Homo sapiens: one gene and its partners. The protein of the gene in region 1 purifies or fractionates together with the protein of each later gene. This does not show direct contact. Each region holds a gene or a part of one and is shown in the gene's direction. Other genes may lie near its edges.

The links.
Region 2: the proteins of COPG1 (region 1) and ATL2 purify together in Homo sapiens (affinity purification with mass spectrometry; 3 studies listed by BioGRID and IntAct, with this or other methods). This does not show direct contact.
Region 3: the proteins of COPG1 (region 1) and SCYL3 purify together in Homo sapiens (affinity purification with mass spectrometry; 2 studies listed by BioGRID and IntAct, with this or other methods). This does not show direct contact.
Region 4: the proteins of COPG1 (region 1) and ERGIC2 purify together in Homo sapiens (affinity purification with mass spectrometry; 2 studies listed by BioGRID and IntAct, with this or other methods). This does not show direct contact.

Annotation. Positions count from the first base shown.
Region 1 is NC_000003.12:129,259,591-129,266,619, forward strand, and holds part of COPG1 (coatomer subunit gamma-1), read left to right. Parts: intron 1-742; coding exon 743-810; intron 811-1,028; coding exon 1,029-1,217; intron 1,218-4,313; coding exon 4,314-4,409; intron 4,410-5,958; coding exon 5,959-6,202; intron 6,203-7,029. UniProt on the Homo sapiens protein: The coatomer is a cytosolic protein complex that binds to dilysine motifs and reversibly associates with Golgi non-clathrin-coated vesicles, which further mediate biosynthetic protein transport from the ER, via the Golgi up to the trans Golgi network.
Region 2 is NC_000002.12:38,367,274-38,374,302, reverse strand, and holds part of ATL2 (atlastin-2), read left to right. Parts: intron 1-7,029. UniProt on the Homo sapiens protein: Atlastin-2 (ATL2) is a membrane-anchored GTPase that mediates the GTP-dependent fusion of endoplasmic reticulum (ER) membranes, maintaining the continuous ER network. It facilitates the formation of three-way junctions where ER tubules intersect.
Region 3 is NC_000001.11:169,883,889-169,890,917, reverse strand, and holds part of SCYL3 (protein-associating with the carboxyl-terminal domain of ezrin), read left to right. Parts: intron 1-2,027; 5' UTR 2,028-2,077; coding exon 2,078-2,242; exon of another isoform or gene 2,243-2,268; intron 2,269-7,029. UniProt on the Homo sapiens protein: May play a role in regulating cell adhesion/migration complexes in migrating cells.
Region 4 is NC_000012.12:29,336,827-29,343,176, reverse strand, and holds the end of ERGIC2 (endoplasmic reticulum-Golgi intermediate compartment protein 2), read left to right. Parts: coding exon 1-57; intron 58-1,360; coding exon 1,361-1,443; intron 1,444-1,958; coding exon 1,959-2,021; 3' UTR 2,022-5,825; downstream 5,826-6,350. UniProt on the Homo sapiens protein: Possible role in transport between endoplasmic reticulum and Golgi.

The DNA of each region.
Region 1 (7,029 bases):
CAAAATAAGCATTAAGAAAAATTTTTTTTGAGTATTAGAGAATAAAAGCCAAGTTATGAAGAAAGGAACATAGATATTCCAGAAAACAGTAGTCATCTTCGCTCCTATGATTGAGTGCCAAATTTAGCTCTGAGCTTCCGGGCAGCCAGGGCAAGGGAGGGATATGGTACCCGAATGGCTCTCATCTAGTTAAAGGAAATAAACCATTTGTTTAAGAGAGGACTTTGTTCTTCAGCACTTGGTGCCAAGGGGGAAGTTCTGTTGGATCCTGTAGACACAGTAGGAGAGAGGAGTGGAATATTACTTCACAGAGGTTAAGGGCTTAGGCTGCAGGTGCAGGCAGTCTTGGAATTTAATCTTGGTTCTGCCACTTACTGGCTGCCAACCTAAAGTTTGTTTGCTTTCCCCTTTGTGCCTCAGTCTCCTTATCTGTAAAGTGGGCTAGTGGTGGCTGCAAGCTATAGAAGTGAGGCATGTCCACTGTATAGCACAGCACCTGGCACACAGCAGATGCCCAGTGAATAACAGCCCTCACTGGAACCCCTGGGTGCTCACAGACATTATGGCCTCTGTCCATGGCTCAGGTGCGCAGGGTGAGGGGAGCTCTGTGTCTTGGGTTGGGATGGGGGTGTCAGCAGGGAAATGAGCTGAGCAGAGGGTTTGAGTCAGAACAGTAGCCCCCGGTTTTCCCAGCTGCCCAGCAGTGAAGGCAACCTGACATGTGGCATCCATCTCCCCACAGTGCTCCAGCTTTTCTGCAGCTCACCCAAGGCTGCTCTCCGCTATGCTGCTGTTCGTACCCTCAATAAGGTAAGAGTCCAGCTTGGGGGTTGGAGGAAGCTGTCTGATCCAACTGGAGGTGTGTCCTAGCCTCTGACCTGGCTGGGAAGGATAATAGCCCTGGTCACAGTTAGTTTCTTCTAGATGGTGAGATGATCTCATCCAAAGGACTTCTGACTGGGCCAAACCATCAAATGTAGTGACAGCATTGGGTTCCTGCCCTCTCTGTCACTGTCCTCCCAAAACAGGTTGCCATGAAGCATCCGTCAGCTGTGACAGCTTGTAATCTGGATCTGGAGAACCTGGTCACAGATTCAAACCGCAGCATTGCCACGCTGGCCATCACCACCCTCCTTAAGACGGGCAGCGAGAGCAGCATCGACCGCCTCATGAAGCAGATCTCCTCCTTCATGTCAGAAATCTCGGATGAATTCAAGGTACCTGCTACCCCCAGGACACCCACGGCCCCCAGAGGAAGGAGCTCTGTCCCTGCTCTCTGTGGCCACAGCCTTCCTGCCAGGACTGACCTGAGGGGCTGGTCAGCCTTGAGGACTCAGAGGAGGCCAGCAGTTTGCTCTGCAGAGACTTGGCCTTCCGAGAAATGTGCGTAGTCCTGCCTCCAGGCCTCCATCCATATCGTCCCCTTGTACTGAAAGAACAGTAGTTTCCAGGCCAGTTAAGGGTTCATTGATTTGTTGTCCAAGTATTTCTTGAGCACTTGCTGTCTGCTATGTAGAGTGACAAAAGGGGAACATAGCAGTGAACAAAGCAGGTGACTGCCCTCCTGGAGCTTCCTTTCTAGGGATGGGAGAGGAACAGTAAACAGGTAAAGAAAGGAGTAGACGAGATCATCTCAGGCATGGGTACTGCAGTCAAGAGTGTAGAAATACAGCAGGGATGATCCTAGGAAGAGCACAGTCTGGGAAGGCCCTTCTGGAGGGTGACATTTGAGCTCAAACCTGAATCAGTGCAAAGAACCAGGAGGAAAGGCAGGAGCAAGTCAAGGAGAGAGAAGGCCAGTGGGTGGAAGAGCTGTGGGGCCAGTGCAGGTGACAAAGTCAGAATAGACAGGGCTCAATCATGTAAGGCCCATGGTCAGGTAAAGAGTTTTAATTGCAAGGAAGACATTGGAAAGGTGTTCTTTTGGGGCAGGAGGAAGGATGTGAATATTTTTTGAGCTTATATTTTGAAATAATTCATAGGAAGTTACAAAGAAATATACTGAGAAGTCCTATGCACCCCTCCATCAACCCTCTCCTACAGTGCCAGCATCCTACACTAGCACAGGACAATGTCAACCAGGAAAGTGACACTGGCATGACCCATAGAGCTCATTCAGATTTCACCAGCTACACAGGCAACTCCTGTGTGTATATATGTGAAGTTCTATGCAAGATGTCATGTGGAGACTTTCAAAATTGCCACCACAGTGAAGACACTCAACTATCCATCTCCACAAGACTCTTGTTACCTCTTCATAGTCAGGCCCATTCCTACCTCTCTATTCCCTAACCCCTGGCAGCCATTAATTTGTTCTCAATTTCTGTAATTCTGTTATTTCACAATTGTTAATTGATAGAACAATGAAGTATGTCACCGGAGAGTTTTAATCAGAGCAAACAATAATATGAATAATATATTGTGGTAAATTCTATAGTGTGGATTATGCAAAGTAGGCAGCAGTCTACTCTGCCTGTGGGTTACAAGAATGCTTTGCAGGCTGAAATGACACAGTGAGATTTGCATATTAGATCCTTCTGGGTCTGGGCACGGTGGCTCATGCTTGTAGTCTCAGTGCTTTGGGAGGCCAAGGAGGGAGGATCACTTGAGGCCTGAATTTTGAGACCAGTCTGGGCAATGTAGCAAGACCTCATCTCTACAAATTTTTTTTTTTTTTTTTGAGTTGGAGTCTCGCTCTGTTGCTCAGGCTGGAGTGCAGTGGTGTGACCTCAGCTCACTGCAAGCTCCGCCTCCTGGGTTCACGCCATTCTTCTGCCTCAGCCTCCTGAGTAGCTGAGACTAGAGGCACCCGCCACCATGCCCAGCTAATTTTTTGTATTTTTTAGTAGAGACGGTGTTTCACCATGTTAGCCAGGATGGTCTCGATCTCCTGACCTCATGATCAACCCGCCTTGGCCTCCCAAAGTGCTGGGATTACAGACGTGAGCCACCGCACTCGGCCTACAGAAAATTTTTTTAAAAATTAGCCATGTGTGGTGATGCGCACCTGTAGTCCCAGCTACTCTGGAGGCTGAGGTGTGAGGATCACTTGAACCCAGGAGTTCGAGGCTGCAGTGAGCCATGATCATGCCACTGCACTCCAGCCTGGGTGACAGAGTGAGACCTTGTCTGAAAAAAAAAAAAATTGGCTGGGCGCGGTGGCTTATGCCTGTAATCACAGCACTTGGGAGGCTGAGGTCGGCAGATCACTTGAGATCAGCAGTTTGAGATCAGCCTGGCCAACATGGTGAAACCCTGTCTCTACTAAAAAAATTAAAAAATTAGCTGGTGTAGTGGCTCACACCTGTAGTCCCAGCCACTCCGGAGGCTGAGGTAGGAGAGTCGCTTGACCTGGCCTGGAGGTGGAGGTTGCAGTAAGCCGAGATCGTGCCACTGCACTCCAGACAGAGCGAGACTCCGTCTCAAAAAAAAAAAAAAAAAAAAAGAGTCCTTCTGGAGCAGAGTGGAGGGGTGACTGGGTAAAGAGACTGTTGGAGTAATTCAGAAGGAGAGGATGGTGCCTGAACCGGCGGGAGTAGGAGAGGTGGGACAGTGCAAGAGCTTTTTGAGGGATAATGCCTGTTGGCAGGGTTGGTGTGAGGGTTGAGGGGTGGATGTCAACAGAGATGATGCCATTTTCTACTTTGAGCTGACAGTGGTGCTCTTGACTAGTTTGCAGGGGAGGAAAAGATGGGGTATTGGATGAGGGAGGGGGAAGGAGATGGAGATGTTTGTGGTTGCAGACATGTGGAGTTTGAAGTGCTGTGGGCGCCAGGTGGAGTTGTCTGACAGGCAGTTGGAAAAGGCAGGTCTTAAGCTCAGACAGGAGATAAATATTGGGAGTCAGTGGCATATAAGAGGCGGTTAAAGCCATGGGAGGGGATAAGATTGCTGAAGAGACTGTGAGAAGAGAAGCGGCCAAGGACAGAATACCCCAGAGACAGGCTTAACCAAAAAGGAGCCAGAGGAGATGATGGGTGGGAACCATCAGTGGGAGCCAGTGGTAGGGAGAGAAGCAGGACAGGTTGGGTGGAGGGGACTCGGAGACTTAAGAAGCCTGAGTAGAAGAGCAGAGTTTGGGGAACCCAGAGTCTGAGAGTCTGACACTGGGGCTGTTGGCACTGCCTTGGGTGGGCTCAGGGATTGTGCCCTTCAAGCTTCAAGCGTGGAGTTGAGTTCCTCTGGTCTCCTTGCCCTTGTGTCATGCCCAAGGCCTGGCCTTACCTAAGGAAGGACTCAGTGGGCACTCAGGGAACTGAGTCACCCCATCTTGGTGGCAGGGCCTGCTGCTCATGCACGTCTATTTCATTTAGGTGGTGGTTGTCCAGGCCATCAGTGCCCTGTGTCAGAAATATCCTCGCAAACACGCCGTCCTTATGAACTTCCTGTTCACCATGCTGCGGGAAGAGGTAAGAGTCAGGGGCATTCGGGGGATGCCAGGTCTCCTGGTGCAGGGAGTGACCTGACCACTGGCTCCATGCTCAGCTTTGTGCGTGTGCTTATGTTAGCCTGTTAACCAACTGGTTTTCATGGTGCCTGCAACCCTTTAAACTCCTTGTGGACATGTAAACACGTACCAATTGCTAGTAATTACAGTAATAACTATGACTCACCAGCCTGACTTTAAAAACTGGATGTCCTGAGGTGATGCTTGTGCAGAAGATGGGAAAATGCATGTTCTTTTCTGGTGGACTCTAGTGCAGAAATATTCTAGACCATTCCAGGAGCTCTAGGAGTGGTTTCTTGTGAAACCGGTGCTAATAATACGACATTGGTTCTATTTCTGTTCCCGACGTGAATTACTGATTCACTTATGCCACCTTTCTTGGACGTCTCAACAAAATGGGTTAATTCTTAGGAGCAATAGCAGATGTTCATGGAGTAGATTTGTTCCTCAGATACATGGTACCCCTTTCACCCAGCCCCAGAGTGGCCCATGGACTAGGCAGTAGAGGAGCCATTGCCTTGAGTGTCTTTGCGTTTCCCAAGAATGTTGTTGTAGAAGGGCACTAATGTTTAGTGAGTTGTCAGCTAATGGGCCCAGCACTTTGGTGATTGTGTTTGTTTTTTTTAAGTAGAGATGGGGTCTTGCTGGGTTGCCCAGGCTGGTCTCAAACTCCTGGCTATAAGTGATCTTCCCACCTTAGCCACCCAAGTTCTGGGATTACAGGTGTGAGCCATCATGCCTGGCCAGGCCTAGCACTTTGGAGACACTGTATGCATGATAGCAGTTTTTTTTTTTTTCTGTTGAGTAGGAGTCTCGTTCTGCTGCCCAGGCTGGAGTGCAGTGGTGAGGTCTTGGCTCACTGCAACCTCCACCTCCTGGGTTCAAGTGATTCTCCTGCCTCAGCCTCCCGAGTACCTAGGACTACAGGTGCCCCCCACCACGCCCGGCTAATTTTTTATATTTAGTAGAGACAGGGTTTTACCATGTTGGTCAGGCTGGTCTCAAACTCTTGACCTCAGGTGATCCACCCACCTTGGCCTCCCAAAGTGCTGGGATTACAGACGTGAGCCACTGCGCCCGGCCTCCATCTGTCACCCAGGCTGGAGTGTGGTGGTGTGATCACGGCTCACTGCAGCCTCAACCTCCTGGGATCAAGCAATCGTCTCACCTCAGACCCCCAAGCAGCTGGAATTATAGGCATGCACCACCATGCCCAACTAATTTTTCTATTTTTTGTAGTGATGGGGTCTCTCCATGATGCCCAGGCTGATTTCGAATTCCTGAGCTCAAGTGGTCCACCCACCTCAGCCTCTCAAAGTGCTGGGATTATAGGTGTGAGCCACTGCACCTGACCAGCCTTTTGTTTGACAGGAAAGAGTGATAGAGGCCCAGAGAACCAAGTGCCCTGTCTCCAAGTTCTGTGTTTGGACAACTGTCCTTGGTCCAGCTCAGGTCTTCAACTCTTTTCTGGAGAGAGCAGGCTCCTTGCTTAGCTCAGCTTCTCTCTGCAGGGTGGCTTTGAGTATAAGCGCGCTATCGTGGACTGCATCATCAGCATCATTGAAGAGAACTCAGAGAGCAAGGAGACAGGGCTGTCACATCTGTGCGAGTTCATCGAGGACTGCGAGTTCACAGTGCTGGCCACCCGTATTCTACATCTCCTGGGCCAGGAGGGGCCCAAGACCACCAATCCCTCAAAGTACATCCGCTTCATCTATAACCGAGTGGTCTTGGAGCATGAGGAGGTCCGGGCAGGTAGGTCTGAGCCAGGGCTGAACTTGGAAACTTAGCTTACCCTTGAATAAATGTCCCAGCAAAGGGACCTGAGCCTCCAGTGGGGATTTGTGCACTCAGTGTTCTTGCTGCACAAGCTGTTTTTCATAATATTGTAGGCAGGACCTTACATGTCATCTAGTTGAACAGTTCTTTGTTTTTTGTTTTGTTTTTTTTTTTGAGATGGAATCTCGCTCTGTCACCAGGCTGGAATGCAGTGGCGCAATCTCAGCTCACTGCAACCTCCGCCTCCCGGGTTCAAGCGATTCTCCTGCCTCAGCCTCCCGAGTAGGTGGGACTACAGGTGTGTGCCATCATGCCCAGCTAATTTTTGTATTTTTAGTAGAGATGGGATTTCACCATGTAGGCCAGGATTGTCTCGATCTCTTGACCTCATCATCTGCCCGCCTCGGCCTCCCAAAAGTGCTGGGATTACAGGCGTGAGCCACCGTGCTCGGCCATGGTTCTTAACCCCTATAATTTTTTAAGTATTTTTTTAATTGAGACGGGGTCTTGCTATGTTGTCCAGGCTGGTCACGAACTCCTGGGCTCAAGCTATCCTCCTGCCTCAGTCTCTGAAAGTGCTGGGATTACAGAGCCACTGTGCCTTGCCTTAAGTGATTTTTTTTTTAACTTTCACTGTATGTTGATGTTTAGCTAAAAAACAAAAAGCTTTGTTGAGATATAATTCACATGCCATAAAATTCACCCATTTATATAAAGTTTACAATTCAGTGAGCAACCTTCCTATTCTTTATTTTTAATTTCTTTTCATGCCCCCACTGGACAGATTTTCTTCTTTCAGCAAT
Region 2 (7,029 bases), on another chromosome or scaffold:
CCACAGTGAATTCATTACTTTAGTAGTTTTCTTCCTATCCGTTAGTCCTCCACACAGCACATGATACACAACACTCGAGGGCTTTCTCTATGGCTTTAAAAATGGATAGCAGGCTGAGTGCGGTGGCTCACGCCTGTAATCCCAGCACTTTTCGGAGGCCGAGGCAGGTGGATCACCTGAGGTCAGGAGTTCGAGACCAGCCTGACCAACATGGAGAAACCCCCTCTCTACTAAAAATGCAAAATTAGCTGGGTGTGGTGGCGCATGGCTGTAATCCCAGCTATTTAGGAGGCTGAGGCAGGAGAATCGCTTGAACCTGGGAGGTGGAGGTTGCCGTGAGCCGAGATCATGCCATTGCACTCCAGCCTGGGCAACAAGAGCGAAACTCTGTCTCCCCCATAAAAAGGATAGCAGGAAGAAAGTACCAACCTGAAAATATGATGGCAATAGGATAATACTTGGTAGATATTATAGAAAGAAGTAGAACAATTAGTAAAGGAAGTAGAACAATTCTGTTTGTTATGGTCATGGAGAAGCATGAAGTATTCAGAAGTGCAAAGCCAAAATAACTTTTACAGATGATTTTCCAAGTTATGGAACGTGTCTCTGTGTGCTTGGGTATATACACATATTGCTAAACTTGGATACAGTTTTTTAAAAATGTGTGTATTTAAGTAGCCACCTTCACTACCTACTCTGAGACAAATGGCTGTGTGGTGTATGGTCGGATGATAGTTACTAGAAACAACTTTTAAGTCATAAAAGACTAACATCCTCTGTTTTCCCAAGGAGATAATATGTACTTTTGATTGACCTTGGATTTGGTCTTCGGACCAGTACAAGTAGAATGTAGGGGATTCCCTTGCTAAGCTACTAGCTTAATAAAAAGTATTCATACAACTCCTGTTCATACAACTTTATGATTGGTCCCCAAACAACCACTTAGAGGCTAGCTGGATATCCTGCTGGCCAGTAACTCTAATAACTTGTTGGAGAAGTATGTAACTGGTGAAGAATACTTATCTAGGTTCTCTAGTAACATTTTATCTTTTATTGCAAAGATGCTCTGATTGTGGCGGCAATGCTTCTTTAATCATAGGGAGGATAATGTAGTGGGAAAAGAATGAGGAATCAAATGAGTGATTTCACTTAAGCTCTCAGAGCCTGGAGCCCTCATATAAGGTAGTGATAATCCGTAACAAGGCTGTCGTGGGAAACAGATGATAGGGTGCAAGTGTTTTGTAGTACTTTAAAGTTTGTAAAACTGTCTTAAGGCACAGTAACATATATGTAAGAATGTACCAGTGTGACTACTTGTGTTATTATGCTATTATATATAATGTGTATATTTGCAATAAAAAGTTATAATTTTTTCCTGTGGACAGAGATTTAGTTTGGGCAAGGGTGGTAGGCAAGTTTTAAATTTTAGCTGTAAAATGCTGATAATATGTTCATGATAGGGTTATTGTAAGTATCAAATGTGTTAAAAGTGCTTAACCCACTGCCAAATATTCTGTCGGAGGTGGTTATTACCATAATGGGTGGTTATTTAAGATGAGACTTTGAACTAAAAAGTAATTTTCAAAATAGGCAACTTGGAAGGTGTTTGTTCAGTTATTAACATAAGATGTGATCATTCATGCTTCTTAGCTATCTTCATTTTAATAAATGTGCATTTTAGACAATCCTGTGGCAAAGTAGTTCTTCTGGAATTGTTTATTTCAATTGCAGGATTTCATATGAGTTAATTTCATAGTTTAAGGTTATGGCAGTTTCCAAGTACAGTTGTCCCTTGGTATCCATGGGAAATTAGTTCCAGAACCTCCCTCTGATGACAGAATTCAAGGATGTTCCAGTCCCTGGAACATGGTATAGTATTTGCATATAACCTATGTGCATCCTCCCGTACACTTGAATCTCTACACTATAATACCTAATACAATGTAAATCATTGTTATACTGTATGCTTGGGGAATAATGACAAGAAAAAATTGTACATGTTCAGTACAGATGCAGTTAAATAATTTTTCTATTCCTGGTTGGTTGAATTCATGGATGTAGAACCCATAGATATGGAGGGCTGACTTGACTGTATAGTGCATTGGCTTTTCAAACAGTAAATCTGCAAAATCTAACTTGGGTCTGTTATGCACAGGATTGCCAAAAAAAAAAAAAAAAACAATTAACATGAAACCATACTAACAGTGAATCTCATAAAAACCTTATTTTTCCCTTCATTTAATCCTTTAGAATAGAGTCATGGACAGTGATTAGAACTACATCCATCTTTAACATTTTAACTTGAGTTCTGCAAACTTCCTATGATTTTTGAAATGGATTTAGAATGGAGGCTTGGATTTTAATACTAGGTCTATGATGTTTTATTTTTATGTATTTATTTATTTTGAGACAGAGCCTCCCTCTGTCACCCAGGCTGGAGTACAGTGGCGTGATCTTGGCTCACTGCAATCTCCACCTCGTGGGTTCAAGCGATTCTTGTGCCTCAGCCCCTGAGTATCTGGGACTACAGACGCGTGCCACCACGTCCAGCTAATTTTTGTATTTTTAATAGAGACAGGGTTTCACCATGTTGGCCAGGCTGGTCTCGAACTCCTGACCTCAGGTGATCCACCCACCTTGGCCTCCCAAAGTGCTGAGATTACAGACATGAGCCACCGCACCCTGCCTGGGTCTGTAATGTTTTTCTGTAACATTTTTTTTTTTCCTTCCCAGTGGTTAATATCTACCCTAGCAAACTTACAGTAATTTTTTTAAAAATTTTGTTTTGTTTCTATGTTTTTTGAAACGAGGTCTTGCCCTGTTGCCAAGGCTGGAGTGCAGTGGCGTGATCACCGCGGTTTTGACCTCCCTGGCTCAAGTAATCTTCCTGAATCAGCCTCTTCAGTAACTAAGACTACAGGAGTGTGCTACCACACCTGGCTAGTTTTTAAAATTTTTTGTGGAGATGTGGTCTCCCTGTGTTGTCCAGGTTAGTCTCAAACTTCTGGACTCAAGTGATCCTTCCATCTCTGCCTCCCAAGTGTTGGGATTACAGGCATCAGCCACCACACCCAGCCATTTCTTTCTTTCTTTTTTTTTTTTTTAATTAAAGAGATAAACCCTATAAATGCCATTTAGAAATTTGAAAGCCTTCTATAAAGAAACTCCTCAAAGGAGGAAAGTTGGCATGGTAAATGGAGAGCTTTTTAAAAATTTCAGTGAATGAATTTGTGGGATGCCAAAAGTTGGTTTAATTTCACCTTTATCAGAATGGGGGAGTTGATTTTTGCCATTTCCTAATCTTTTTTATCTTTTTGTATTTTTTTCCTTATTTTTTTCCCCCCCGAGATAGGGGCTAGCCTTGTTGCACAGGCTGGAGTGCAGTGGCTCAATCATAGCTCGCTGCAACCTTGAACTTCTGGGGTGCACCCCCCACCCCCGCCATTTCAGCTTACTATGTAGCTAGGTCTACAGGCTTGCACTACCCTGCTGGGCCAGGGGTTGATTTTTTTGTTTTGTTTTGTTTTGTTTCGTTTTGAGATCGAGTCTTGCTCTGTCACTCAGGCTGGAGTGCAGTGGCACAGTCTTGGCTCACTGCAACCTCCACCTCTGGGTTCAAGAGATTCTTCTGCCCCAGCCTCCCAAGTAGCTGGGACTACAGGCACCCGCTACCACGCCTAATTTTTGTATTTTTTAGTAGAGACGGGTCTTACCACGTTGGTCAGGCTGGTCTCAAACTTCTGACCACAAGTGATCCGCCCGCCTTGGGCTCCCAAAGTGCTGGGATTACAGGCATGAGCCACTGTGCTGGCTGGGTTGATTTTTTTTTTTTTTTTTTTTTTTTTTTTTTTTTTGGGACAGAGTCTCACTCTGTCTCCCAGGCTGGAGCGCAGTGGCGCGATCTTGGCTCACTGTAACCTCCGCCTCCCAGGTTCAAGTGATTCTCTTGCCTTAGCCTCCCGAGCAGCTGAGATTACAGGTGCCCGCCACCGTGCCCGGCTAATTTTTGTATTTTTAGTAGAGACAGACCAGGCTGGTTTCAAACTCCTGACCTCAGGTGATCCACCCACCTCGGCCCCCAAAGTGCTGGGATTACAGGTGTGAGCGACCGCCCGGTCTTGATTTTCTTTCTTTTTTTTTTTTTTTTTTTTTGACGGAGTCTCGCTGTCGCCCAGGTTGGAGTGCAGTGGCGGGATCTCGGCTCACTGCAGGCTCCGCCCCCCGGGGTTCACGCCATTCTTCTGCCTGAGCCTCCCGAGTACCTGGGACTACAGGCGCCCGCCACCTCGCCCGGCTAATTTTTTGTATTTTTTTTAGTAGAGACGGGGTTTCACCGTGTTAGCCAGGATGGTCTCAATCTCCTGACCTCGTGATCCACCTGCCTCGGCTTCCCAAAGTGCTGGGATTACTGGCGTGAGCCACCGCGCCCGGCTTTGATTTTTTTTAATGACAAATCCGAGAGGAGTTTTGACGGGAAAACACCCCTGTTCTTAGAATTTTTTCAAGATGGCTATTAATAGCATCTTCATAAATTGCTGTTTTCTTTTTATCAGCACTTTAATTTTTATTTTTTATTTATGTACTTATTTTTGAGATAGGGTCTCAAATATGCAGCCTCCACCTTCTGGGCTCAAGTGAACCTCCTGCCTTAGTCTCCTGAGTAGCTGGGACTTACAGGTGTGTGCCACCATGCCTGGCTAATTAAAAAAAAAAAATTGGCCGAGCATGGTGGCTCACGACTGTAATCCCAGCACTTTGGGAGGCTAAGGCGGGTGGATGACAAAGTCAGGAGTTCGAGACCAGCCTGACCAACATAGTGAAACCCCGTCTCTACTAAAAAAATTTATTTATTTTTTCTTTGAGACAGAGTCTTACTCTGTCGCCCAGGCTGGAGTGCAGTAGAGCAGTCTCGGCTCACTCTACCTTCTGAGTTCAACTGATTCTCGTGCCTCTGCCTCCCAAGTAGCTGGGATTACAGGCATGTGCCACCACGCCCAGCTAATTTTGTATTTTTAGTAGAGATGGGGGTTTCACTATGTTGGTCAGGCTGGTCTTGAACTCCTGACCTCAGGTGATCCACCCACCTTGGCCTCCCAAAGTGCTGGGATTACAGGTGTGAGGCACTGCACCTGGCCTGACATGTACATTTTCAAGAAAAAGCTAGATCCATTCAGAAAGGTTTTACCCATTTATTCATCAGGGTTAGGTTTGTGCTTGTTTGCAAGTATCTTTGTTCACAGTGGGTGTTAATTAAAAATAAATGCCAACATATAGGTAAAAATGGGCATATTACAGTTTAATTTGCAATTTTTTGATTGTAGTTGATGTTGGAATAGTGATATGGAAATTGAAAATGTGAATTAGTTTATTTACTTTTTTAGAGATGAGGTATCACTATGTTGCCCAGGCTAGTCTCGAACTCCTGGGGTTAAGCGATCCTCCAACCTCCACCTCTCAGTGCTGGGATTACAGGCGTTAGTTACTGTGCCCAGCTCTGACTTCTTTTTATTAATTGCTTTTTAATATTTTTTGAGCATTTCCCAGTATTTCTTTTATTGTTTTGTAAAAGCCTGTTTGCATGCAGGAAATTATTTTTCATATTTGCTTTTTAATTTTGTATTTTTTTGGTGAGAATTGTGTGTGTTGGTTTCTTTCATGTTTTTCTTAAATAAATTGGCAATTTTTTTGAACTTATTAGTGGTAGTCTTAGTCTTTAGGCATGCTATTGGAGTGCTTTTAAAAAGTTGTTATGGCTGGGTGCAGTGGCTCATGCCTGTAATCCCAGCACTTTGGGAGGCCAAGGCGGGCGGATCACCTGAGGTGGGGAGTTCGAGACCAGCCTGACCAACATGGAGAAACCCCGCCTCTACTAAAAATACAAAATTAGCCGGGCGTGGTGGCACATGCCTGTAATCCCAGCTACTAGGGAGGCTGAGGCAGGAGAATCGCTTGAACCTGGGAGGTGGAGGTTGAGGTGAACTGAGATTGCACCATTGCGCTCCAGCCTGGGCAACAAGAGTGAAACTCCGTCTCAAATTAAAAAAAAAAAAAAAAAGTCCTTATTTTAGAGTCCAGGTGCGGTGGCTTACGCCTGTAATGCCAGCACTTTGGGAGGCTGAGGTGGGTGGATCATGAGGTCAGGAGATAGAGGCCATCCTGGCTAACACAGTGAAACCCCATCTCTACTAAAAATACAAAAAATTAGCCGGGCGTGGTGGCAGGCGCCTGTAGTCCCAGCTGTTGGGGAGCCTGAGGCAGGAGAATGGTGTGAACCCGGAAGGTGGAGCTTGCAGTGAGCCGAGATTGCGCCACTGCACTCCAGACTGGGAGAGAGAGCGAGACTCCTCAAAAAAAAAAAAAAGTTGTTTTAGGCCGGGCGTGGTGGTTTACGTTTGTAATCCCAGCACTTTAGGAGGCCAAGGTGGGAGGATCACCTGAGGTCAGAAGTTCGAGACCAGCCCGGACAACATGGTGAAACCCCATCTCTACTAAAAATACAAAAATTAGCTGGGCATGGTGGCAAGCGCCTGTAATCCCAGCTACTCCAGAGGCTGAGGCTGGAGAATCACTTGAACCCTGGAGGCGGAGGTGGCAGTGAGCCGAGATCGCGCCATTGCACTCCAGCCTGGGTGAAAAGAGTGAAACTCCGTCTCAAAAAAAAAAAAAAAGTTGTTTTAAATGGGCGGTTTTTTTTTTTTTTTTTTTTTTGAGATGGATTCTTGCTCTGTTCCCCGGGCTGGAGTGCAGTGGCTCACTGCAAGCTCCGCCTTCCGGGTTCATGGTATTCTCCTGCCTCAGCCTCTGTAGTAACTGGGACTACAGGCGCCCGCCACCATGCCCGGCTAATTTTTTTTTGTATTTTTAATAGAGACGGGGTTTCACCGTGTTAGCCAGGATGTTCTCGATCTCCTGACCTCGTGATCTGCCCGCCTTGGCCTCCCAAAGTGCTGAGATTATAGGCATGAGCCACCGCGCCCGGCCTTAAATTGTTAATCATATATTGATTGTTTATTCGTATCTCTTTTTATT
Region 3 (7,029 bases), on another chromosome or scaffold:
CTATCTCCAGAACAGAGGGATTAGCATTGTTGCTTTTACCCATGGTCCCACATAAACTTTTTATTTGTAGTCCCAGTAGAAAGGTGAATGTTACCATAGTTGCCATACTTGGCATTTCTTTTAGTACTGTTTTTTGCTTCTCTGTCATTTTTAAGAAAGATACATTGCCAGGTAGGTAGGAATTCAGTGAATTTGTTACAAAGCAGATTTAGTTCTTATTCTCAGCAACATTTTTAGATTTTGAAAATCTTCAATTTTAGATAGCTTTAGCCTTTATACATGTGTTTCTTATATAACGATGGTTGTGGATCGGTAGGCACTTTAAATTTTGTTCTAGGCATGTGTTTTGAGCAGCATTACATACCCAGTGTAGAAGGTGTTGTATGGAATTTCACCGAAGTGGGGAAAAATTCCAAGTAGAGGGTCAATGTGTAATGATTATTGAGTTTATATTTGTCCAAAGAATACAGATTTTAAACAAATTTTTAAAGGCCTACATAGAATTATTGGCCGTATTTGTAGCAGTTTGCTTTCTACATTGCCAGAGTTAGTAAGAACTCTATTTTCTAATTTTTATATTATGGTAAAGCCACCACTGAAAACTGACTGCCACAGATTTTTCAGACATACGTTGTTTGGCCTATATAGGTTTAGAAAACATTTGATTCAACATTGAAAAATATGGAGATTTCCACAAAACTATTCAGGCTCTTGGTTCCTCACGATAAGTGGCATGATCTGACAGTTCTGAAACTGCAGTCCTGGTTGGAACTCTGTGATAGCCACTGTCTTCAGAATGCAAGCCTCTCACAGTAGGTCCCATGCACGCACAGTAGGTCCCTCTGCCAGGCTGCCAGTACTGCTGGGGCACTGCACATTACCTGTTGTCACCCTGTGAGTTTGTATCCCTGTTGTCAAGAAAGCTGTTCATATTGTAGAAGATTTGGAAGGTGCAGGCAAGTGTGTGTGTATAAAATTACCTATAATCTGACCTTCCACTGGAAACCTCTGTTAATACTTCAACATATATTTTTCAAGTCTGTGTGTATGTATACATATATTTCTTTTCAAAACAACTTTGAGGCGTAATTGATACAGAATAAATGAAAAAAGTGTACAGTTTTATGTTTTGACATAATCACCCGTTACCATCATCATCATCAAGATAATGAATATATCCATCCTCCCAAAAGTTCCTCATACATCATGATAATCCTTTCCTCTCCCTTGATCCCTCTAACTGTGCCCCTTCACTAGGTGAGCACTGAAGTATTTTGTCATAGTTGCATTTGAATTCTGTGTATGTGTGGGCTTTTGTTTTTTTTTAGCAATTGAGATTATTTGAGATTCAGTTTTGCGGTTTCCCCTTTTTACTTAGGATAGCTTTGAAGAGTAGTGCGATCGTACTTTTTCTTATGTTTATCGTCATTTGTGTTTCTTCAATGAGTTGTCTGTTTTCTTTCCCATTATTGTACTGGTGTTTTAGTGTTTTACTTGGTTTATATGAGCTCTTCATTTGTTAATATGTTTTTCATCATATTAACAATGTTTTTCAACATATTAATATTAAAACCATGATTTTCCTCATTATAAGTATTCTCCAATTTGTATTGTTTTCCTTTATAATTTTAAGTTATTTTCTACATACAGAAGTTTTATTGTTTTTGAGTAATATTTTTACAACATTTTCCTTTGTGAGTGAGGATATACAAGTGAGTTAGGAAGTATGAATTACCTTATTCTATTTTTGATTGCCTTTCCACTCTGAAAGTTTGTATGTGGTGGAGTTTGGGGAGGGACAGTAACTACCTGTGACTATTTAGTAATGTGCATTTTCTCTAGAGCTGTTAGTTGTTAATTAACAACCATTGCTGGTAACTTGCAGAGCGTTTACCATTTTTACTGTCAAATGTCCTAGTTATGAGGATCAAAGAAACTAGTAGTTTGGGGTGGCTATGTCTGGATATCTCTTGTTGATGTTGCAGATAGGGATTTAATGTTTGAAATTGTTTTCTGTTTTCTTTTAGATCTGCTTGGCTTTGAGGAAGAGTGGCAGTACTGCCTCACTGCATAAGGGATGGGATCAGAGAACAGTGCTTTAAAGAGCTATACACTGAGAGAACCACCATTTACCTTACCCTCTGGACTTGCTGTTTATCCCGCTGTACTGCAAGATGGCAAATTTGCTTCAGTTTTTGTGTATAAGAGAGAAAATGAAGACAAGGTTAATAAAGCTGCCAAGGTACCATAATAGGTGACGACTTAATAGTTAGTACTTTTTACTATCTTGTTTTCTTTTAAAAAAATATGAAATTAGTAAAGTTCAAAGGAGGTAAGATCATAAGGACCAGTATTTTATTTATGTCCTTTCAAAACATTGCTCTTACTTCATGGGCCTATCTTCCATTTGCATGACATGGTCAGGTACCATACCTGTAGCCAAAAAACATCATAAAACTCAGTACAATGGCTTTTATCATCATATTTTATTTTTCTGGTGAGAAAGTTAGGGAGACATTTTTATGTAGCTAATATAAGATATAAGGAGCTATATAAGGAGTTAATCTCGTCTAGCAAAATGCAGTTAAGTATTGACATCATTCTGGAGGCTTCAGCTTCCTCCTTAGGGAAAAGATCCTTGTAGTTCATGCCTTATAATTGTTGCTCCAGGCAGAGGGTGCCAGTGCATTAGCATGCTGTCTGACACACTCAGGAGATCCTGGCCTCTTATCAGAAAAAATGATTTTACTGTGGAATGTAAGTCAATAAAATAACCCCAAGTGTCTTTTTGAATTAGGGAAAATGAAGGCATTAGTTGATGCTTCTTTGGATAGCTAGCACTTTGGAAATTTAGGAATTCAGATATATCATCTTCTAAAATGGAAAATGTAATTGTATTAGTAAATTAATTCTCCAGTGTTTATTCTGGTAGGCATGCTATTTTCAAGTTGAACTTGATATCTTGATTTTGTTAGAATTATAATCTCTATTACCTTGAGTCCCTTAGTTATCAACAGGTATGGAACATTGATGTCTGTTTCATAGGACTCTAAATTGTTTTTATTTTTTTAAAATGATTATAAAGGATTATATTAGTAATGGAATTTTGGTCTTCACAACAGTAATTTATTTGATGTTGTATTTTTGATCAAGCATGAAATTGTTATAAGATGGTTCCTAAAGAAAAAGATGGGTAACAGTTCTCTCGAGATGCGTGGTGGTAAAAAGTATATAGCTGGCTGTTTTCTTGCTAGGTAATTTTGCTTTTTGGTAGAACCACATTTTTGACTCTTTTTTTACATCATCTAGGTATTGTTAAGAATTTTTTATTGTGATTTTACAAAAGACAAAATGCCTTACTTCGCTTTCTTGTTCTTACAGTTAATGTCTAACATGCCTCCTGTTATTTTCATCTAATAAGATTGTGCATTTTTTTTAATAAACTATTATCGGCGAGGTACTAGAGACTTATCTTTCTTAGTATTTTTTTCTTTATAAGATTTTTTTAAAATTGTGTTACACTTTATGGTGCACGTACCAAGAAAATTGAATAACCTAGATCGAGTTTTTAAAGGAAAAAACAGCAAGACCACTCTCCATTTTTGAGGACTTCTGTGCTGAAGGAATTGCGAAGCTTGAGAGGGAAGACTTATTCCCCCTTAATATTCATAGATACCCTTTTAAGCCATGTCTGAGTCTTTGCACATAGTTCATCTTTGTCTCTTGTTAAGCCATTCTGTGGCTTTGAAAACCTCATATATGAATTTGGGAAATTTGAAATTGCAACAAAGTGATAACTTTAGATTCTCAGAATGTTTCTCATAATCTTAAAAAACTAGGTCATAGCACTTGAGAAATGTATGGCATTCGATGTGCTAGATTTTAGGAATTTGATGTCCTAGGTATCTGAAATACTAAAACAATATATTTAGCTTGCCTCACTTTCTCTAGAGTTTGGGTTGTTGGTCACACCTTTGGTAGTTTTAACGATTATTTCAAGCAGATATATAGTGTTTTCTGTTACTGGATAACAATATACACTTTCTTCACTGTTACAAGTAAAAAACAACAATCCTAGTATACACCAAGATGAAATGCAGGTATAAGCTCTGGCCACAAAATAATGTGAGAAATACTTAGTTCTATCTGACCATCTCATTTTACATTGAATTCATCAGCTATAATTAACAGTATAATTTGCTAACTGATGATGATGACTCATATATGTAAGCCTATAAACAGTGATAAATTCTAAGCCCGAATTTGGTTGCTGTAGTTTGCTGTAATCTAAGTGTTTAGTTAGGGCTTTGTGGTAAGCTTATTAAAGCTTATAAAAATGATTCTTGAGTGTCTTTATGCCAGGAATCACATTGGACTCTAAGAGTGGTATGTAGATGCTATATAAGTGCTCTATTTAGTATTGTTGGAGTCATTATGCTCTTCCCCATAATGAATTTGGGCTGTTGTGGAAGGGTTAGTCAATGTTATTTAAGAATGCACATTGTGTGGGCATAACAAGAAATGGAAGAGATGATGGCTATGCCCAAAAGAGCTTGCATTCTAATTGGAGAAAGCTGTTCTCCTCTCTCATACTGACTTTTTTTTTTGAGATGTAGTCTCACTCTGTTTCCCAGGCTAGAGTGCAGTGGTTCGATCTTGGCTCACTGCAACCTCTGCCTCCCGGGTTGAAGTGATTCTCCTGCCTCAGCATCCCACGTAGCTGGGATTACAGGCACGCGCCGACACACCCAGCTCATTTTTGAATTTTTAGTAGAGGTGGGGTTTCACCATGTTGGCCAGGATAGCCTCTACCTCTCGACCTCGTGATCCGCCTTCCTCAGCCTCTCAAAGTGCTGGGATTACAGGCATGAGCCACCGTACCTGGCCCATGGTTGACTTTTTAAGAAATTATTTTTTGCCCTTCATAATCAGAATCCAGTGCTCTTACGTGGCTTCTGGGCACTATCCACTCAGAAGAACTTCAGAAGTATCCCCCATGCCTCAGGTATGATGGACCCACCAGATGGAATGGCCAGCTACTTGCTCCCCACCACACCTTGCAGACTTCACGCTCTCCTTTTTCCTTGGATGTTAATAACCATCCAACCTGCCATTCTAAACTAATTATCTGCCAAAATCTCTAGTCTGAGCTCCAGATCTATATTTTCACTTACCTATTGAACATTTCCACCTAAAAGTTTTATCAGTACCTCAAATGCAAGCTCTACAGAATGGAATTTTTATTCCTTTCTCTTTCTGCATTTTATTGTTAGTTTATGATCTAACCTTCAGATAGTGGACATTTACAAAAAAAAAAGCATCTGCATTTTGTCTTAGATTTACATCTTCAGAGAAAAAGGAATAATATTTTTCCCTGAAGATCTTTGTTCTCTAGTTTAGGCATCTTGGTTATTTTGTTTACTTAACATATTTAACAGCGTGAAATTATGGCTTTGTCTCATCTAAAAGCCTGCAGGTGGATTTGGGCTGTAATGCTGAGTCAGTTAACTTTGCATAGTTCTCAAAGTGAAATAGCGAATCAGAGGCAGAACAACAATAAAAAGTTAAGCCTCTGAGGCTTGAATGAATTCTCTGGATAGCTGAATCATAACTGATTCCTGATAAAGGGGAATCATTTATATTTAGGGAAAGAATCTCATACTTAAGATCCCTGTTTGGGTGTAGAAAAATATCATCATTGATAAATTATATAATACTATTCATATTTAACAATAAAGGTCCTTACTCAGAACCCTCTTTCAGAGACCATCACCTAGGACAGTAAATGGGATGTAATAGGTATTCAATAACTTTGGGGAAAGTGCTTTCAAGACACTCATTCAAAAATAGTCATCTTTCTCTACTAGGGCAAGAGCCATTTATTTGCTCAACTGATGTTCATTGAAAAATATCCTAGTTACCCTTAGCAAGTATGTCTTGTTGCTATTCTTTAGAGCAGCAGAGGCTTGAATCAAAAAATGTCCTATTTGATTCTGAACTGCTAGCCTTTCCTGTGAATCTGTGTGCATAATTTATGCTTAATATTAAATGTACCAAAGGAGAGTGAGAAATAAGGTTCTTGCTAAGTTAAGTGCCTTGTTCAGAAACATGTAATGAGTCATTTCTTCTTCTCCTTCTTTATTAAACAAACAAGTACTCACTTTGCATCAAGAAAATTTCTAGGCATTGTAGAGTAAAACAATAAGCAGAAGAGAACATGAAAGATTTGGTTTGAAAATTATTTGAAATGATTCTTAAATGAAAATATGAGGGAGGCTACATAATTTTATACAGAAACCGTAGCTCAAAACACACCTGTAGGCCAGGCAAGGTGGCTCATGCCTATAAGTCCAGCACTTTGGGAGGCCGAGGTAGGTGGATCACCTGAGGTCAGGAGTTTGAGACCAGCCTGGCCAACATGGTGAAACCCCATCTCTACTAAAAACACAAAAATTAGCCAGGCATGGTGGTGGGCGCCTGTAATCCCAGCTATTCGAGAGGTTGAGGCAGACGAATCATTTGAACCTGGGAGGCGAAGGTTGCAGTGAGCTGAGAACACGCCATTGCACTCCAGCCTGGGTAACAAGAGCGACACTCTGTCTCAAAAACAAAACAAAACGAAATAAAAAAACACTTGTAAAAAATTATTCCCAGTTAACTGCACTCATTTAACCAACCTGCTAACACAATTTTTGGTTTATCTGGATCTTTGCTGTATTTATTAGTTTGTAATTGCTAGTTAAAGAAATTTTTTCTTCAATATTTTCTTAATTATTTTTTATTGAATTAACTCGAGGGTAACAACTTTCTTCCTAAGAATAAATAAATAAACCCTATTGGAGCTATTCCCAGAGTTGGCAAAATTTGAGATTATTATAAGAAAATAAAAGAAATTGGAGGCTGGGCACAGTGGCTCACACCTGTAATCCCAGCACTTTGGGAAGCCGAGGTGGGTGGATCACAAGGTCAGGAGTTCAAGACCAGCCTGGCCAACATAGTGAAACCCCATCTCTACTAAAAATACAAAAA
Region 4 (6,350 bases), on another chromosome or scaffold:
TCTGGCAGTTTTTTGTAAGACTCTGTGGTATTGTTGGAGGAATCTTTTCAACAACAGGTTAACAACCATTTCCTTTTTGTCTAATTTCTGAAAGTGTTGCTTATACTTAAGTTGCTTCTTCTCAAAGGGGCAAGAAGTATACAGATTTTCATGTTTCGGTGTTTAAATAGCTTTTGCTTTAATTACAAAACTCCAAAATTATATTGACTAACCAGTAAACATAACTAATTTCATTGTATTCAATGATGTAAGGTAGATTATATAATGGTGAGTTGGAAAGATCCTGGGTGTTAACATCAGATTGAAGTAGAATTGAATGTAAGTTCTGTCATTTACTTGGTGGTAGCTTGGAATAGATCACCTACCTTTTCTGAGGTTTTCTAATCAGTAAAAATAGCAATAATAATACCTAATTTGCAAGTGTGCTATAGGATTAAATATGAAAATGCCTAGAAGGCATTTAAGACATTTTTAACTGTACAGTATGTAAAATCATATGTTATAGTACTTTGAATTATGCAATACATGAAACTAGATTTGTAATCAGTAACATGTTTATGATTTTTGTCCTGAGATCCTGGAATTCGCTAAGATTATTTGTCGAATTGTAATGATGAAAATTGGGAGTTAAGTACAATAGAGAAAAAGGAAACAATTCTATTTTCATCTTCAGTCCTTATTCAGTATTAGATGGAGCTGGGTAGTTTATTATACTTAGAATCATATTTTTAAATGAATGAATAGCTTTTCTTTCGAAATTCTTTGTTAGTGCTTCATTTCAATCTATTTAAATTTGTGTTGTTGACATCATTTATTTTCCAAAATTGTATTGGTGTGGGAAAACCTTGAAAAGATTGTGTTTAGGCCCGGTGCAGTGGCTCATGCCTATAATCCCAACACTTTGGGAGGCCAAGGCTGGCGGATCAACTTGAGGCCAGAAGTTCCAGATCAGCCTGGCCAACATGGCTAAACCCCGTCTCTACTGAAAATATAAAAAATTAGCCGGGCATGGTGGTACATGCCTGTAATCCCAGCTAATTGGGAGGCTGAAGCACAAGAATTGCTTGAGCTGGGAGGTGGAGGTTGCAGTGAGCCAAGATTGCACCACTGCACTCCAGCCTGGGCAACAGAGTGAGACGTCTCAAAAAAAAAAAGATTGTGCTGAGATCGTGAATTATGTGGCCTTGTGACTTTGAAAAGAAATCCATTTGTTTTAAAATCTTTCTTGATTATTTTTAACCATGGAAGTGAATAATGCAAACTGCTTTGTTTTCTTCCGTAATCTATTCCATTATAGTTATTTATTCTTAAATAACAGTTTAGGAAATAATTAAAAGCATAAACTTATTGTTTATTACAGGCATGTTACATGGAATTGGAAAATTTATAGTTGAAATAATTTGCTGTCGTTTCAGACTTGGATCCTATAAACCTGTCAATTCTGTAAGTGGTGTAGTATACATGGTGCTGATCTCTAAATCTTAGAATCATTGTTAAGTCTATGAGCCAGTCATGGTGGCTCACACCTGTAATCCCAAGACTTTGGGAGGCTAAGGCGGGAGGATCGCTTGAGCCCAGGAGTTTGAGACCAGTCAAGGCAACATAGTGAGAGCCCCATTTCTACAAAAGATAGAAAAAATTAGCTAGGCAAGGTGGTGCAAGCCTGTAGTCCCAGCTACTTGGGAGGGCACAGTGGGAGGATCACTTGAGCCCAGGAAGTTGAGGTTGTAGTGAGCTATGATCGTACGTACCACTGCACTCCAGCCTGGGTGACAGAGCAGACCCTGCCTCAAAAAAGATAGAGATAGAGAGATAGAGAAATAGGGGGAGAGAGAGAGAGAAATAGTAGCTTTTGGTTACTAGAAAGGATTGCCCAAAATAAAACCTTGTGTTTAGAGGAAAGAGTATAAGGAATAAAACTAATTCTTTGGTCTTTTTTTCCCTCCTTTTCTCCTTAGGTTCCTTTTGAGGATGGCCACACAGACAACCACTTACCTCTTTTAGAAAATAATACACATTAACACCTCCCGATTGAAGGAGAAAAACTTTTTGCCTGAGACATAAAACCTTTTTTTAATAATAAAATATTGTGCAATATATTCAAAGAAAAGAAAACACAAATAAGCAGAAAACATACTTATTTTAAAAAAGAAAAAAAAGGATAAAAAAACCCAAACTGAAATTCTATATACGTTGTGTCTGTTACAAATGTCGTAGAAGAAATCATGCAGCTAAACGATGAAGAAGCCCAACTGGAGTGTTGCTTTGAAGATGACGCCTTCTTATATTTTCATAGCAAATGGGTGGTATCAAAATCAGACATTGCTTCTTGCTGATAAAAAGCCTGAAGGAAATAAGTGAAACTACATCTATGGGAAAAAAAAAAACATTGAGAAGTGCAAATGTTCGCATCCTTTTGTTTTTAAAAGATATGATGTCAGAATAAAATGTGGAAAACATACGGAAAACTAGTCTAGACTTTAAAGAATTGTGATCAGGTCACATTGTTAATAAAAAAAAAAAACGGGCTAGTCCCTATGTTATAGCCATATTAATGTTAAGCCATATTGACAAGACCAGTTATCCAATAATTTGGTCTTAAAAAGTAACTACTTTTCTTTGAACTCTGGTTATTGACTTATCTAACTGTTGAAGATAGAGTCTTAGAAGACTAAGGTAAATTCTCACAGGGGCAGATATGTAGGTGTTATGTAACTAGGGTGTCATTCACAAATGGTATAGTAGAATCTTATACACGGAAAAGAAAGCACATTTTTTTAAAAAAGATGCCAAGTTTTTTAATCTAATCATTATATTATTGGTGTATTTTGGGCAACATAGGGTGAGTTATAAAAAGATCCGCTACTGATAGTGAAAATTACCGGTTTGTAAAACATTAAGAGAAAAAATAGGATATTTTATACATGTGGTGAGTGGAGAACAGGGTAACTTTAAATGAAAGTGTAAGGCAAATTGTAAGCACCACAAGATATATCAGATTTGAGAGGTGCCATGTTAAACATTGTCCATTAAACTATAAAACTGTATTATGAAGTATTTGCATTCAGGGTGTCCTGAATATGATTGATTCTGTATTAGATTGTGTTCTAACTTTCTTACTATTTAAGGATTGGTTCTAAATCTTCACATTATAAAAGATTAAAAACAGTGAGAGGGAGCTATCACACAGGTACTATTAAAAGCTGTATTTGGAATATGTGTACCAATATCAGTTTTCCTTTTGTAGTACTGAATGGCAGTAGAAGAATCAGCAGCCAATCCTCAAAGTTTAAATCATTTAAGGAAATGGGGAAACAAAATTCCAGGTAAATAACAAGACTGAAAAACTAGATTTAAAATAGTGGTTTTAGAAAACAGGATATCACAAGTAACAGTTTTTCAAATGGATTTTTTTAAAGATAAATTTATGAAAACAGGATAAACAATATAATGGAGAGAAGGAGAAATAGTGATGGGTCTGTTTTGCAGTAAAGTTTATGCAGAATGACGTTTTGCAGAAAATAACAGAAGCATCACTTTAAAAAATATATCATTAAGAGCCATGACGTTAACTGATGAAAATAAGTGATATAACATACTTTGAAAGATTTTTAAACAGAAAATTCTGAATCGTGAATGAGCCTTCTCTAGGTTTTAATTTTTTTTCTTCAAATTATTTCCAACAAAGTTTGGCTATAAACTAACACCATCTATCCACAGGAATTTTAATAGGAAAGGATTAGAATTGTAGACTGATTGTTGGTCCTTTAAGTATGCTTGGAAGAAAATTCAATCGAGTTTCAAGGCTTTTTCTAAATGGGAGGGAGAACAATATTGATTTAGGATTATTTTCTTTCATTTAGGATTAGAACAGTTAAGTGCCTTTAAAAAGGACTTTAAAAATTATTTTGATACTTATATATGATTTTTAATTGTTTTCGTATTTTCCAAATACCATATTAAAATTTTAATGAAATTTATCTCCTATGAAAGGAATTTCTTTAAAGCAAAATTCTGCTTTGCCTTTGATTTCCATTTTAAAAGTTAAAGGCTTCCATCTGAAACTCCTCAAATAGAGTCAGATTTTTGGCAATGGAAGTATTAAAATTCCGATCAGCCCTTTGGACGATGAAGTTTACCTGCATATTAGGATTTGTTAGGAGTTTTTGGCCTCACCAAGTGATTCTTTTCTATTGCAGAGAGCACTTTACTCACCTACCTGTTATGCAACTTTCCCTATGCCTGGAGGTGCCTCCAGCCAGGATACCCTACTTTGTTACCCAATTCTCCTTTTTGTTTTACAAGAGTATTCATAATATCTATATGTTTATATTCCAGACTACATATTTAAAAATGAGATCTCAAATTATATGAAATGGATTTTTAAATACTGTGTTTGCATACATTGACCTATAAAGAAGATTAAATATTTAGGTGAATAATTCCCTGCTGCAGTATTTGTACACTTCAGACTACCTCTTAGGAAAAGCTTAACTTAGTATTGCAAAATTCCCTTTCTCTTTTTTTTTTTAAGAGATGGGGTCTCGCACTGTTGCCCAGGCTGAAGTGCAGTGGCATGATTGTAACTCACTGCATCCTCGAACTCCTGGGTTCAAGCAATCCTCCTGCTTCCATCTGCTGAGTAGGTAGGACTACAGCCATGCACCAACAAACCTGGCTAATTCTTTTTCATTTATATAGTTAGTATCTTGCTGTGTTGTTCAAGCTGGACTCCAACTCCCGGACTCAAGTAATCCTCCCACCTTAGTCTCCTGCATTGCTGGAATTATAGGCACGAGCCACTGCACCTGGCACCCAAATTACTTCTAGTTCTCAAGTTAGATGATTAATATCACACTTTTCTCATGTATGTTTTATGATAGCATTGAATTTTTATAATTAAAAATTTACTAATGCAAACAAGATTTACAGTCTTTAATACAATCTTAATTTTGGAATTCATGAAGGAATGACTAAGTTCTAATTTTTTTTTTTTTTTTTTTGAAACTGAGTCTCGCTCTGTCGCCTAGGCTGGAGTGCAGTGGTGCAATCTCAGCTCACTGCAACCTCCGTCTCCCGGGTTCAAGTGATTCTCCTGCCTCAGCCTGTTGAGTAGCTGGGACTACAGGTGCGTACCACCAAGCCCAGCTAATTTTTTTATATTTTTAGTAGAGACGGGGTTTCACTGTGTTAGCCAGGATGGTCTCAATCTCCTGACCTCATGATCCGCCCACCTTGGCCTCCCAAAGTGTTGGGATTACAGGCATGAGCCACTGCCCCTGGACAGATCTAATTTTTTAATAGTGTAAGAGAGATACACTGTGCATTCCATCTATGTCCTGAGTTAGTAATTCAAGTACCAAAAAGTAATTTAATATGAAACTCCTTGAAAATTCAGAGCTTACACTTGAATTCAAAATGCCTATTTTTGATTGTTTAAAAGTTACTTAAACCTGAGCTTTAGGACCTTTAAAATCTCAGCATGCCTTTTAAGCTAGTACTTTTCCTGTTTTGAGCTCTAGCAAACCTTCAGCAAGCCAAGGTGGTAGCCCTTTTTCAACACAATCAAAATAGAGAGGTCACCAGTTGTTTACTACCTTATGGTAAAATGCCCGGATCAAGATCCATGTATCCCCCCCATATTGTGATGATGCAATCAAAGCATAGTTTTTTTCTACTTTCTGAAATATTACTGATGAAATCACTTTACATTTAAGAGGAGAAAACAGACTGCCTTGGATTTTTTTTTTGTCTTGAGAGAAAAAACAAAATATTTAGTATTGCAAGCATAAACATTTGGACTCAATAAATGACAAATTATGAAACTTTTTTTGTCTTTTTAATACTAGGAGAAAATTAAAATCATGTACCCCCAAATAAGCCTCAGTTCCCATATTTAAACTTTTTTCTCATAGGAAAGCTACAGGAATTTTAAGATATCACATGGTTACATTTGCTTTTCTTCCAGATGGAGCTAAATTGCTATATGATACAGGGTTTATTTTATATTTCTCATATTAAAGATGAAAAAGTGAAAATTGAGTAGTTGACTCAAAATTATATGTATATATATATATATGTTAACAGTTGAATACAAACAAGATTACAAGCAGTGAAACATTCAAATAGTTTTGGCAACTCCAAATATTTTGTGTTTCACAAAAGGAGTTAGGTTAACTTTTCCAAATATAACTCATTTTATACTATTTTAATAAGGAGAAACTTAAGGATGAGAAGGCATGAGGAAAAGTATACATTAGTGAAAGCTATATACTAAAGCAGACCTTCAACAACAGCTCATAACTAATAAATGCTTTGTATTTTGTTTTCAAGCAGTTATGTAAATCAAT